2 linked regions of the Homo sapiens genome follow. The protein of the gene in region 1 purifies or fractionates together with the protein of each later gene. This does not show direct contact. Each region holds a gene or a part of one and is shown in the gene's direction. Other genes may lie near its edges.

The links.
Region 2: the proteins of PCDHGC4 (region 1) and SLC27A6 purify together in Homo sapiens (co-immunoprecipitation; 2 studies listed by BioGRID and IntAct, with this or other methods). This does not show direct contact.

What each region holds. Positions count from the first base shown.
Region 1 is NC_000005.10:141,480,417-141,488,178, forward strand, and holds the start of PCDHGC4 (protocadherin gamma-C4 isoform 1 precursor), read left to right. Parts: upstream 1-4,613; 5' UTR 4,614-4,757; coding exon 4,758-7,199; coding exon of another isoform or gene 7,200-7,373; intron 7,374-7,762. UniProt on the Homo sapiens protein: Potential calcium-dependent cell-adhesion protein. May be involved in the establishment and maintenance of specific neuronal connections in the brain.
Region 2 is NC_000005.10:129,031,368-129,034,318, forward strand, and holds the end of SLC27A6 (long-chain fatty acid transport protein 6), read left to right. Parts: intron 1-1,738; coding exon 1,739-1,915; 3' UTR 1,916-2,268; downstream 2,269-2,951. UniProt on the Homo sapiens protein: Mediates the import of long-chain fatty acids (LCFA) into the cell by facilitating their transport at the plasma membrane.

The sequences.
Region 1 (7,762 bases):
AAAAAAAAATTATCAGCTATTACTATAATTATTTTTATTAGTTCCTCACTCACCTAAAATCTCAAACACACCTTAGAAATACACATATGAGAACAACCAAAAATGACAAAGTAGAAGCACATATGAAAAGGCTAAGAAAGCATGAAAGCCAGCAAGAAATAACTGCCGCTCTTCTGGTCAGCCTGGAAAGCAACTGGCATTTTCCCTAGAACAATGTTTTCAAACTTGGTTGCACATTAAAATCACCTAGAGACCTTTTAAAAATTCTGAAACCCAGGCCACACCCCGACAAATGAAAGCACAGTCTCTGGGGGTGGGACATAGGCATCATTTTTTGAAGGTCCCCACTTGATCCTAATGTGCAGACAAATTTGAAAACCACAGCTTTGGGAGGCTGAGGTGGGTGGATCATAAGATCAGGAGTTTGAGACCAGCCTGGCCAATATGGTGAAACCCCGTCTCTACTAAAAATGCAAACATTAGCTGGGCATGGTGGCGCATACCTGTAGTCCCAGCTACTCTAGAGGCTGAGGCGGAAGCATCAGTGAGGGAGAATCAGTGAACCCAGGATGTGGAAGTTTCAGTGAGCCCAGATCACACCACTGCACTCCAGCCTGGGCGACAGAGCGAGACTCCACCTCAAAAACAAAAAGAAAGAAAGAAAAAAGAAAAGCAGTACTCTGGAACCTACCAATCCATCATTTAGCATATTTGTGAAGTAAAGTGTTATTCTGGTATTTGCAGAACCAGAATCCAGCTTTATTGGGCCAGGCCCAATTTTTTTAAAAAACATGGTAAGGTCTCCCAGCCTTAAAGTATTACATAGCATAGCTCTAAAAGATCACTGTAGGAAGACATAAAATGGTATTTCAGTCATCTAAGGGAAAAACCTTCCTAAAGCACTAGCCCCTGGACAACTATTATTTAAACATCTACAGCTGTTCAATAGATATTGGGTTCTTTTTGGAGGGATGTGACAAAATTCTTGTATAATTAGATTGTGATGATGATTGTATCAGTTTAGTACATGTAAATACACTGAAAACCATTGGATTATACACTTTAAATATGTGATTTGCATGGTATGTGAATTATGTCTCAGTAAAAATCTAGAGATGGGGCTGGGCTCAGTGGCTCACGCCTGTAATCCCAGTACTTAGGGAGGCTGAGGCCAGCGGATCACCTGAGGCCAGGAGTTCAAGACCGGCCTGGCCAACATGGTGAAACTTCATCTCTACTAATAATACAAAAATCAGGCCGGGCCTGGTGGCTCACGCCTGTAATCCCAGCACTTTGGGAGGCGGAGGCGGGCGGATCACGAGGTCAGGAGTCCAAGACCAGCCTGGCCAACATGGTGAAACCCCGTCTCTACTAAAAATACAAAAATTCACCAGGCGTGGTGGCTGAGGCAGGAGAATCGCTTGATGGTGGAGGTTGCAGTGAGCCGAGATCGCGCCACTGCACTCCAGCCTGGGTGAAAGAGCGAAACTCCATCTCAAAAAAAAAAAAAAAAAAAAAATCAGCCAGATGTGGTGGCAGGTGCCTGTAGTCACAGCTACTTGGGAGGTTGAAGCAGGAGAATCGCTTTATCTCAGGAAGCAGAGGTTGCAGTGAGCCAAGATCATGCTGTTGCATTCCAGCCTGGGCAACAAGAACAAAACTCACTCCATCTCAAAAAAAAAAAAAAAATATCTAGAGATGGGAGAATCATATGGCTGGCATAAAAAGGTCAAGTCAAAGATATGTAAGATTAAGGCTTTACGATGCTCCAGTTCTAGTAAAACAGACCAGGTACTTGTTTTGGTGTGAAATTGCCAATATAAGTATAGTACTGTACATATTAGTTGTTTAGCTTAGGTAAGTCTTTTAATCTCTTTAAACTCCAGTTTCCTCATCTATAAAATAAAGAGAATATCTACTTTGCAAACTTGTTGTGAGAGTGAAAAGTAATGCATATAAAGTCCCTGTATGGAGCAAGTACTCAATAACTATTTGTTGAACTAAAAATGATAATACTGATATTCACCATTTATTAGCATCCCTATGTGCCAGACACTGTAAACAATTAAAAGTTATCATTCTGGTACCCAGAGTACAGTATGAGACAGACATGCAAAAAAAAAAAAAAAAAAAGATAATGGAGATCTGCATAGCATAAGATGCAGTGGGACCAAACGGGAAAAAACACCTAAATGAGCCTGGAGAAAGGAAGAAATGATAGAGGTGGTGATGCTTGAGCTATGATCTAAAGGTTGAGTAGTAGCTTGTCAGACAGTAAAGGGGAAAGGACAGGGCAGGGAGGGGCCATTGCAAGAAATTCCATGCAGAGGGATTATGGTATTTCATTATCACTGAACCTTAAACTGTGTGTGTGGCCGGGTACGGTGGCTCATGCCTGTAATCCTAGCACTTTGGGAGGCCAAGGTGGGCAGATCACTTGAGGTCAGGAGTTTGAAACCAGCCTGGCCAACATGGTGAAACCTCATCTCTATTAAAAATACAAAAAATTAGCCAGGTGTGGTTGTGGGTGCCTGTAATTCCAGCTACTTGAGCAGCTACTTGAGAGGTCGAGGCAGGAGAATTGCTTGAACCCGGGAGGCAGAGGTTGCAATGAGCTGGTGTCAGGCCACTGCACTCCAGCATGGGCAACAGAGAGAGACTCCATCTCAAAAAAAAAGTGTGCGTGTAAAACAGACAGTCTTTGTAGGAGATGAGGTGAAGCAAGTAGGCAGGAGTTAGATCCTGAGTTACCTTTGGGCCAAGCCAAGGAGTTTTTATTTTATTCCATATAGATGACAGTCACTGCAGAAATTTGAACTGATATGCATATATCATGAGGTTTTTTTGTTTTAGAAATATTATTCTGTCAGTCATAAGTGAAGGGACTGGGGACATTGGGACTGGAGGCAAAGAGATCTTATCTCTTTGCAATAGTTTGAAAGCTATTGCAATATTTGAAGAGAAGATTGATAAATGCTTGAACCAGCACAGTGGCAGTACAGATGGAGGGAGCTGACTACAATAAAATCATCAGGACTTGTTGATTGACATGATATAGGAAGTGAGGGACAGGGATGAGTCAAGGCTGATCCCCCTAGATCCTGACTAAGGAAGCTGGGTGGTTGACAGTGCCATTCACAGAGACAGTGAATTCTGGCATAAACACCTAATAGGTCAGGCTGGTTTACACCTCCATCATTCCCATGGGAGAAGGTATAGAGGGGTGTGTGTTTGTGTGTGTGTGTGTGTGTGTAAAAGAACACAGAAAGCCAGATTCCTCTTTTTGACACCAGAATATTGGTTCCCACCATAGTCAAAAGGATATTCCTGAGGATCGAGGCTTGGAAAAATATTGGGGAAGGATAAGAACTCCAGTTGTTGCTGCTTTTTTTGGCAGCCAGTGTAACCTAGGTAAGGACTTGGTTGAATTAAGAAATTTCATGTCCAGATCAGGATGGATTTTTCTATTTCTCTGAGCTCTGGTGTGTTTCCCACTCAGATTGCAGGTCGTAGGTACCTACGGTGTGAATTGTGTTGTGTTTCTGTGCTTGTGCAAGGGAGTAGCTAGGTTGCTGGGAGGTCTGGATGAGGGTGGGGGTGGGGTGAGATCAAGTCTCCAGCTCCAAGAGGTCCCCTGGGGCTAAGTGAAAAGCTTGCTCTTTTGAAATGGTCTTCGTTGGTAATTAACAAAAGATCAAGAATACCTTGGTGTCAGATAAAGGGAATTTGTAGGCACAATGCTGTTGGTAGCTGATCTCAATCATTCAAGGAAGCTATTAAATCTATGAACATTAGCATTCTGCCAGGTAAAGAGATCTGGTCCTTAGCACCTCCCAGACACACTGATTCTTTACTGTTTTGAAACATCTCCCTCTCCTGGCTTCCTCCACCCCGCTTCCATACTGTCCTTGAAATCAATGAATGGTAATTTAGTGTATCTAGTGTATCACTAGCAAATGTCTGAATAAGAAAGGTTTGGTTTCCGCTGTGTCTCCTGTTACAATGAGAACATGTACTGCATAAATTTAATTGGCTACGTTAATGTGTAAGCCTTTTCTGCAAAGAGATGGATCCGTTTCTGAATATTCTGCAGAAGGGCAGAGTTTTGAGTATATGGCAGTGGTTCTAATTAGCAGTTGCTCCAATACAATCAGACTGAGACGGAAGCTACTCATTTAGAATACTGGTTGATGACAACACTGGCTTGAACAAAGTGACCACTCTCCAATGGCTACTCTCCCTCTCAGTGGGCCGCAGGTTGCTAGGGCTCAGGCTGTGGCTGTTTTCCCCGCCGAAAAGGGGCGGGGTCAGTCGGTGTGTTAGGAAAAAAAATGTATATATATATATATGTTGTCTGCCTCCCCACAGAGATAACAACCCGTGGAAAAACATGCCGTTGAGCGGGAGGAAGGCGAAAAGATAGGCTGGGTTTTTTGGGGGGTGGGGGAGCGTGGAGGATAGGGTGGGCTTTTTCCCCTCCAATGCTGCGACGCATTAACCCTGCTGCTGTTGGGACGTTCTCTGCTCAGCCTATTGGCTGAGCCCGGGAGCCGCTGTCTGCCAATCGGGTGGTGAAAGGCAGACAAATCTACCCCGCCACCAGCAAAAACGGCGCGTAACCCTTGCGGCGCCGGCCGAACCGCGCCAGAGCTGGCGCGGGGAAAGGGAGATAGGTGTCTCCAGCTGCTGTGGCTGTTTGGGGCGGGTCGGCTTCATCCGCGTCTCAGGAGCAAGTAGAGAATTAGCGGGCGGCAGCAATGCTCCGCAAGGTGAGAAGCTGGACAGAAATCTGGCGGTGGGCTACCCTTTTGTTCCTCTTTTACCACCTGGGTTACGTTTGTGGGCAGATCCGCTACCCGGTCCCAGAGGAGTCACAGGAAGGGACTTTTGTAGGGAATGTCGCTCAAGATTTCCTGCTGGATACGGACAGTCTGTCAGCTCGCAGGCTGCAGGTCGCTGGAGAGGTGAACCAAAGACACTTCCGTGTGGATTTGGACAGCGGAGCCCTGCTCATCAAGAACCCAATCGACCGAGAGGCACTGTGTGGGCTCAGTGCCAGCTGCATCGTGCCCCTGGAGTTTGTCACCGAAGGTCCTTTGGAAATGTACCGAGCAGAGGTAGAGATCGTAGATGTGAATGATCACGCCCCCCGTTTTCCGCGGCAGCAGCTGGACTTGGAAATTGGGGAGGCAGCTCCTCCAGGACAGCGTTTCCCGTTGGAAAAGGCTCAGGATGCAGATGTGGGGAGCAATTCGATTAGCAGCTATAGGCTGAGCTCCAATGAACACTTTGCACTGGATGTGAAGAAGCGCAGCGACGGCAGCCTGGTCCCAGAGCTGCTCCTGGAGAAGCCTTTGGATCGAGAGAAGCAATCGGACTACCGCCTGGTGCTGACTGCTGTCGATGGAGGGAACCCGCCGAGATCTGGCACCGCAGAGCTCCGGGTATCCGTGCTGGACGTAAACGACAACGCCCCAGCCTTCCAGCAATCCAGCTACAGGATTAGTGTGTTGGAGAGCGCACCAGCGGGCATGGTGCTCATCCAGCTCAATGCCTCAGACCCGGACCTGGGTCCCAGTGGTAACGTCACCTTTTATTTCAGTGGTCATACCCCTGATCGTGTAAGAAACCTCTTTAGCCTGCACCCCACTACTGGAAAGCTTACTCTTTTGGGGCCCCTAGACTTTGAGAGTGAGAATTACTATGAATTTGATGTGCGGGCTCGCGATGGGGGTTCTCCAGCCATGGAGCAACATTGCAGCCTTCGAGTGGATCTGCTGGACGTAAATGACAATGCCCCTTACATCACAGTGACCTCAGAGCTTGGAACCCTCCCCGAGAGTGCAGAACCTGGCACTGTGGTGGCACTTATCAGTGTGCAGGATCCAGACTCAGGGTCAAACGGAGATGTGAGCCTCCGCATTCCTGACCACTTGCCATTTGCCCTCAAGTCTGCCTTCAGGAACCAGTTCTCCCTGGTGACTGCTGGACCCTTGGATCGAGAGGCCAAATCTAGCTATGACATCATGGTCACTGCTTCTGATGCTGGGAACCCTCCTCTCAGTACCCACAGAACTATTTTCCTCAATATTTCAGATGTGAATGATAATCCACCCTCTTTCTTTCAGAGGTCACATGAGGTGTTTGTTCCTGAGAACAATCGCCCAGGGGACCTGCTTTGCTCCCTTGCAGCCTCTGACCCAGACTCTGGCTTGAATGCGCTTATCTCCTACTCACTCCTGGAGCCCAGGAATCGAGATGTATCAGCTTCCTCTTTCATCTCTCTGAACCCCCAGACAGGAGCTGTTCATGCTACTCGATCCTTTGACTATGAGCAAACCCAGACACTGCAGTTTGAGGTGCAGGCCCGGGATCGGGGCAACCCACCCCTTAGCAGCACTGTAACAGTTCGTCTATTTGTGCTGGACCTCAATGACAATGCTCCAGCTGTGCTCCGTCCTCGGGCCCGGCCTGGTTCCTTATGTCCCCAAGCACTGCCTCCATCAGTTGGTGCTGGCCACCTAATCACAAAGGTGACTGCTGTGGACTTGGATTCAGGTTACAATGCTTGGGTTTCCTATCAGCTCCTGGAGGCCCCAGATCCCAGCCTGTTTGCAGTCTCTCGATATGCTGGGGAGGTGCGGACGGCTGTTCCTATCCCAGCTGACCTCCCACCACAGAAGCTGGTCATTGTGGTAAAGGATAGTGGTAGTCCACCACTCTCTACCTCTGTTACTCTCTTAGTGTCCTTAGAGGAAGACACTCATCCAGTTGTCCCAGATCTTCGAGAATCTTCAGCTCCAAGGGAAGGAGAATCTCGTCTAACCCTCTACTTGGCTGTGTCCCTAGTGGCAATTTGCTTTGTCTCCTTTGGCTCATTCGTGGCACTACTCTCTAAGTGTCTTCGTGGGGCAGCCTGTGGAGTCACATGCTTTCCTGCTGGCACCTGTGCCTGTCTCACCAGATCTCGAAGGAGGGAGGGGCTTCCCCCTTCCAATGGGATCCTCCGAATCCAGCTAGGGTCAGATGACCCTATCAAGTTTGTTGATGTGGGAGGCCACTCTCATGGCTGTACACCCTTGGCTTCTGCACCCACTCGGAGTGATAGCTTCATGATGGTGAAGTCACCCAGTGCACCTATGGCAGGGGAGCCTGTTCGCCCAAGCTGCCCACCCTCTGATCTTCTCTATGGGCTAGAGGTGAGACCTTTGCAGGCTCAACAAATGCTTGAGGGTTATTCTGATCCAGGCATATGGCTAGGCCATGTCCTAGAGAGTACTGGCCTCTCAGTAAGTGCCCATAGTGATGTCACCATTTTTGTAAGAGGTAACTATGTGGTAGACGCTGTGCTTTGTAACTGTTTCGTGAATTAACCAGAGTTGTCACAGTTTAGCATTGGGGGCGGGTCATGCCTATATCTGAGTAAGAAATGAAAGTAATTGGTGATCAAGAGCCAGGCTGTTGTGGAAGCATGATGATGGAATGTGGGAGCACAGGAGGCTACAGTGCACAGGGTACAGTGCACCAGGCAGTCACTTGGACAAAGGTGGCTGTTTTCTCTACTCTTCCTGAAAGAGGGGATCAGATTCTGAAGTACCTTAACTCTAGGTTACCATTTCCCAAGGGATTGAGGGGAAATAAAATCTTTGTCTCCCAGTATCTAGTACACTGTGAAGGGACCTCTCTATTTGAAACATAGAGACAGCAGAAAGAGGAGAGAACTAAAGGAATAGAGAGGCACGCATCAGAGTGGTGGCATAGA
Region 2 (2,951 bases), about 12 Mb from region 1:
AAATTAAAAAATGGAAGAAGCCTTTTTGCCAATAATTCACAAAAATATAATATTCAGTGTGGCTGGGATAAAACGAACTTGGTCCTTTCATTCTGCTCATGGAACCATAAATTGTTATAACCTCTCTAGAAAACAATTTGGTAATATATGATCAGACTCTTAACAGTTTGCATATATTTTGACTTAGTCAAAATGCATCTTAGGAAGTAATCAAAGATGTATAAAGATTTTAATATTCTAAAACACATTTTTTATTTCTAGTGTTAAAAATTTTGATATTCTCTAAAAGTTCATGAATAAGGGCAAAGTTAATTAAAATATGATAATTAAATGAGACCTTATAAAACAATTTTCTAAGTTCAATTTTGAAGAAAATTACAGGACCCAGGAAAATATACTTTGTATAATATTAAGCTTAAAAATGGCAGAACACTAAATTGTATAAATACAGTGAGCTGCTAATTTTTAAGAAAAGAGTAAAAGGATATGTTTGCTTGCACAGCCATATCTGGCTGTGATGACAGTGTTGGATCAGGGGAGATGGAGGAGGGAAGGGAGATCAGGGAAGGGGGTTCAAAGTGAAGTTGACTCAAATAGTCCAAAAGGATAAATAAAAATGGCCAAGCTACTCATAGAATGTTGTAGGGTCTCTACATGTCATCTCACTTAAACAGACTGTTTATCCATGCCTGAAATTCCCACAAAGGGATACACTCTTATCTCCTTTAAACACCTTGAAACAGAGATTCTTAAACTTTCTAGACTCATGGCATCTTTAATGTCTCATAGCACTCTTGGGTCAAAACAAATACCTAAACATTTGTTTATTCACTAGTTAAGGAAAAACAGATTGGTAAGTATTTAGGTCTAACAAATGAGTAGCCACCTGAAAAATAATCCATATAAATAAGTAAATGCTTTCATTTCATTTTCAAATAACCACAATCAGTCACTAAGGAGATGTAAGTTGGGCCACAGTTCTTCAGACCTTGGAATTAGATTGGACTGGACAGGGAGAGCCTGATTTCATGTTCCATGATGATTTTTGGCTGTACTTGCTTTTTATCCCAGCAACTACCAAAAACCCAATTTTGCAAAGATAATGACATCATTGAATGTATTACAAATTACTATTGAAACTGTGAACCTTGAGCTAGTAGTTTGTGACTGGTGACTAACAGATGTCACTGAGTTTCTCTTGAAAACAAGATATCCTGTGAGGACCTTGGAAATTCACTGAGGTACCTCAAGTTTTAGACCATTCAAGTAACCCCTCTGGGTATATTTAAGCCATGTTTTAGAACATTCTGCACCCCGTCTGGCTCTTATAGTATTCTGCTTTTTATGATAGATTTGTGTGTACCTGTAGTAGAAATTGCTGTCTTTTGTGGCTTTTATCTCCTTAGCATCTTATGGCATTCTCTATACATAATGTTATATTGGCATTGAATTGAAGAGATAACCTATGTATTTTAGACATAATTATAATCAGTTTATTATGTTCATAATTCTTATATATTGAATGAGTTTATATTTAAGTAAAGTTTACAGGTAAATCAAACTAAAGATTTTAATATTCTAAAATACATTTTTTATTTCTAGTGTTAAATTATTAGAAAATACAGAGATCACTAGATATAAAGTGTCATAATTTAATATTACAGTCTATAGTATTAACTATATATGTATATATTATAGTTATTAAATGATTCTACTCATCCTGGTAATTGCTTTACAGGAAAAAATGGAAGCAACAGGAACATTCAAACTATTGAAGCATCAGTTGGTGGAAGATGGATTTAATCCACTGAAAATTTCTGAACCACTTTACTTCATGGATAACTTGAAAAAGTCTTATGTTCTACTGACCAGGGAACTTTATGATCAAATAATGTTAGGGGAAATAAAACTTTAAGATTTTTATATCTAGAACTTTCATATGCTTTCTTAGGAAGAGTGAGAGGGGGGTATATGATTCTTTATGAAATGGGGAAAGGGAGCTAACATTAATTATGCATGTACTATATTTCCTTAATATGAGAGATAATTTTTTAATTGCATAAGAATTTTAATTTCTTTTAATTGATATAAACAGTAGTTGATTATTCTTTTTATCTATTTGGAGATTCAGTGCATAACTAAGTATTTTCCTTAATACTAAAGATTTTAAATAATAAATAGTGGCTAGCGGTTTGGACAATCACTAAAAATGTACTTTCTAATAAGTAAAATTTCTAATTTTGAATAAAAGATTAAATTTTACTGAAATATTTTATTTTTATGTATCCTGTCTTATAACCCAATAACATAATTTTCATTAAAAATGTGTTTTCAGTATAGTTTGAAGTCAGGTAGCATGAAACCTCCAGCTTTGTTCTTTTTGCTTAGGATTGTCTTGGTTATGCGGGCTCTTTTTTGGTTCCATATGAAGTTTAAAGTAGATTTTTCCAATTCTGTGAAGAAAGTCATTGGTAGCTTGATGGGGATAGCATTGAATCTATAAATTACTATGGGCAATATGGACATTTTCATGATATTGATTCTTTCTATCCATGAGCATGGAATGTTTTTCCATTTATTTGTGTCCTATTTTTTTCCTTGCGCAGTGGTTTGTAGTTCTCCTTGAAGAGGTCCTTCAAATCCCTTGTAAGTTGTATTCTTAGGTATTTTATTCTATTTGTACCAATTGTGAATGAAAGTTCACTGCTGATTTGGCTCTCTGTTTGTTATTGGTGTATAGGAATGCTTGTGATTTTTGCACATTGATTTTTTGTCCTGAGACTGCTGAAGTTGCTTATCAGCTTAAGAAGATTTTGGGCTAAGACAGTGGGGTTTTCTAAATATACAATCATGTCATCTGCAAACAGAGACAATTTGACTTCCTCTTTTCCTATCTGAATACCCTTTATTCCTTTCTGTTGCCTGATTGCCCTGGCCAAAACTTCCAATAC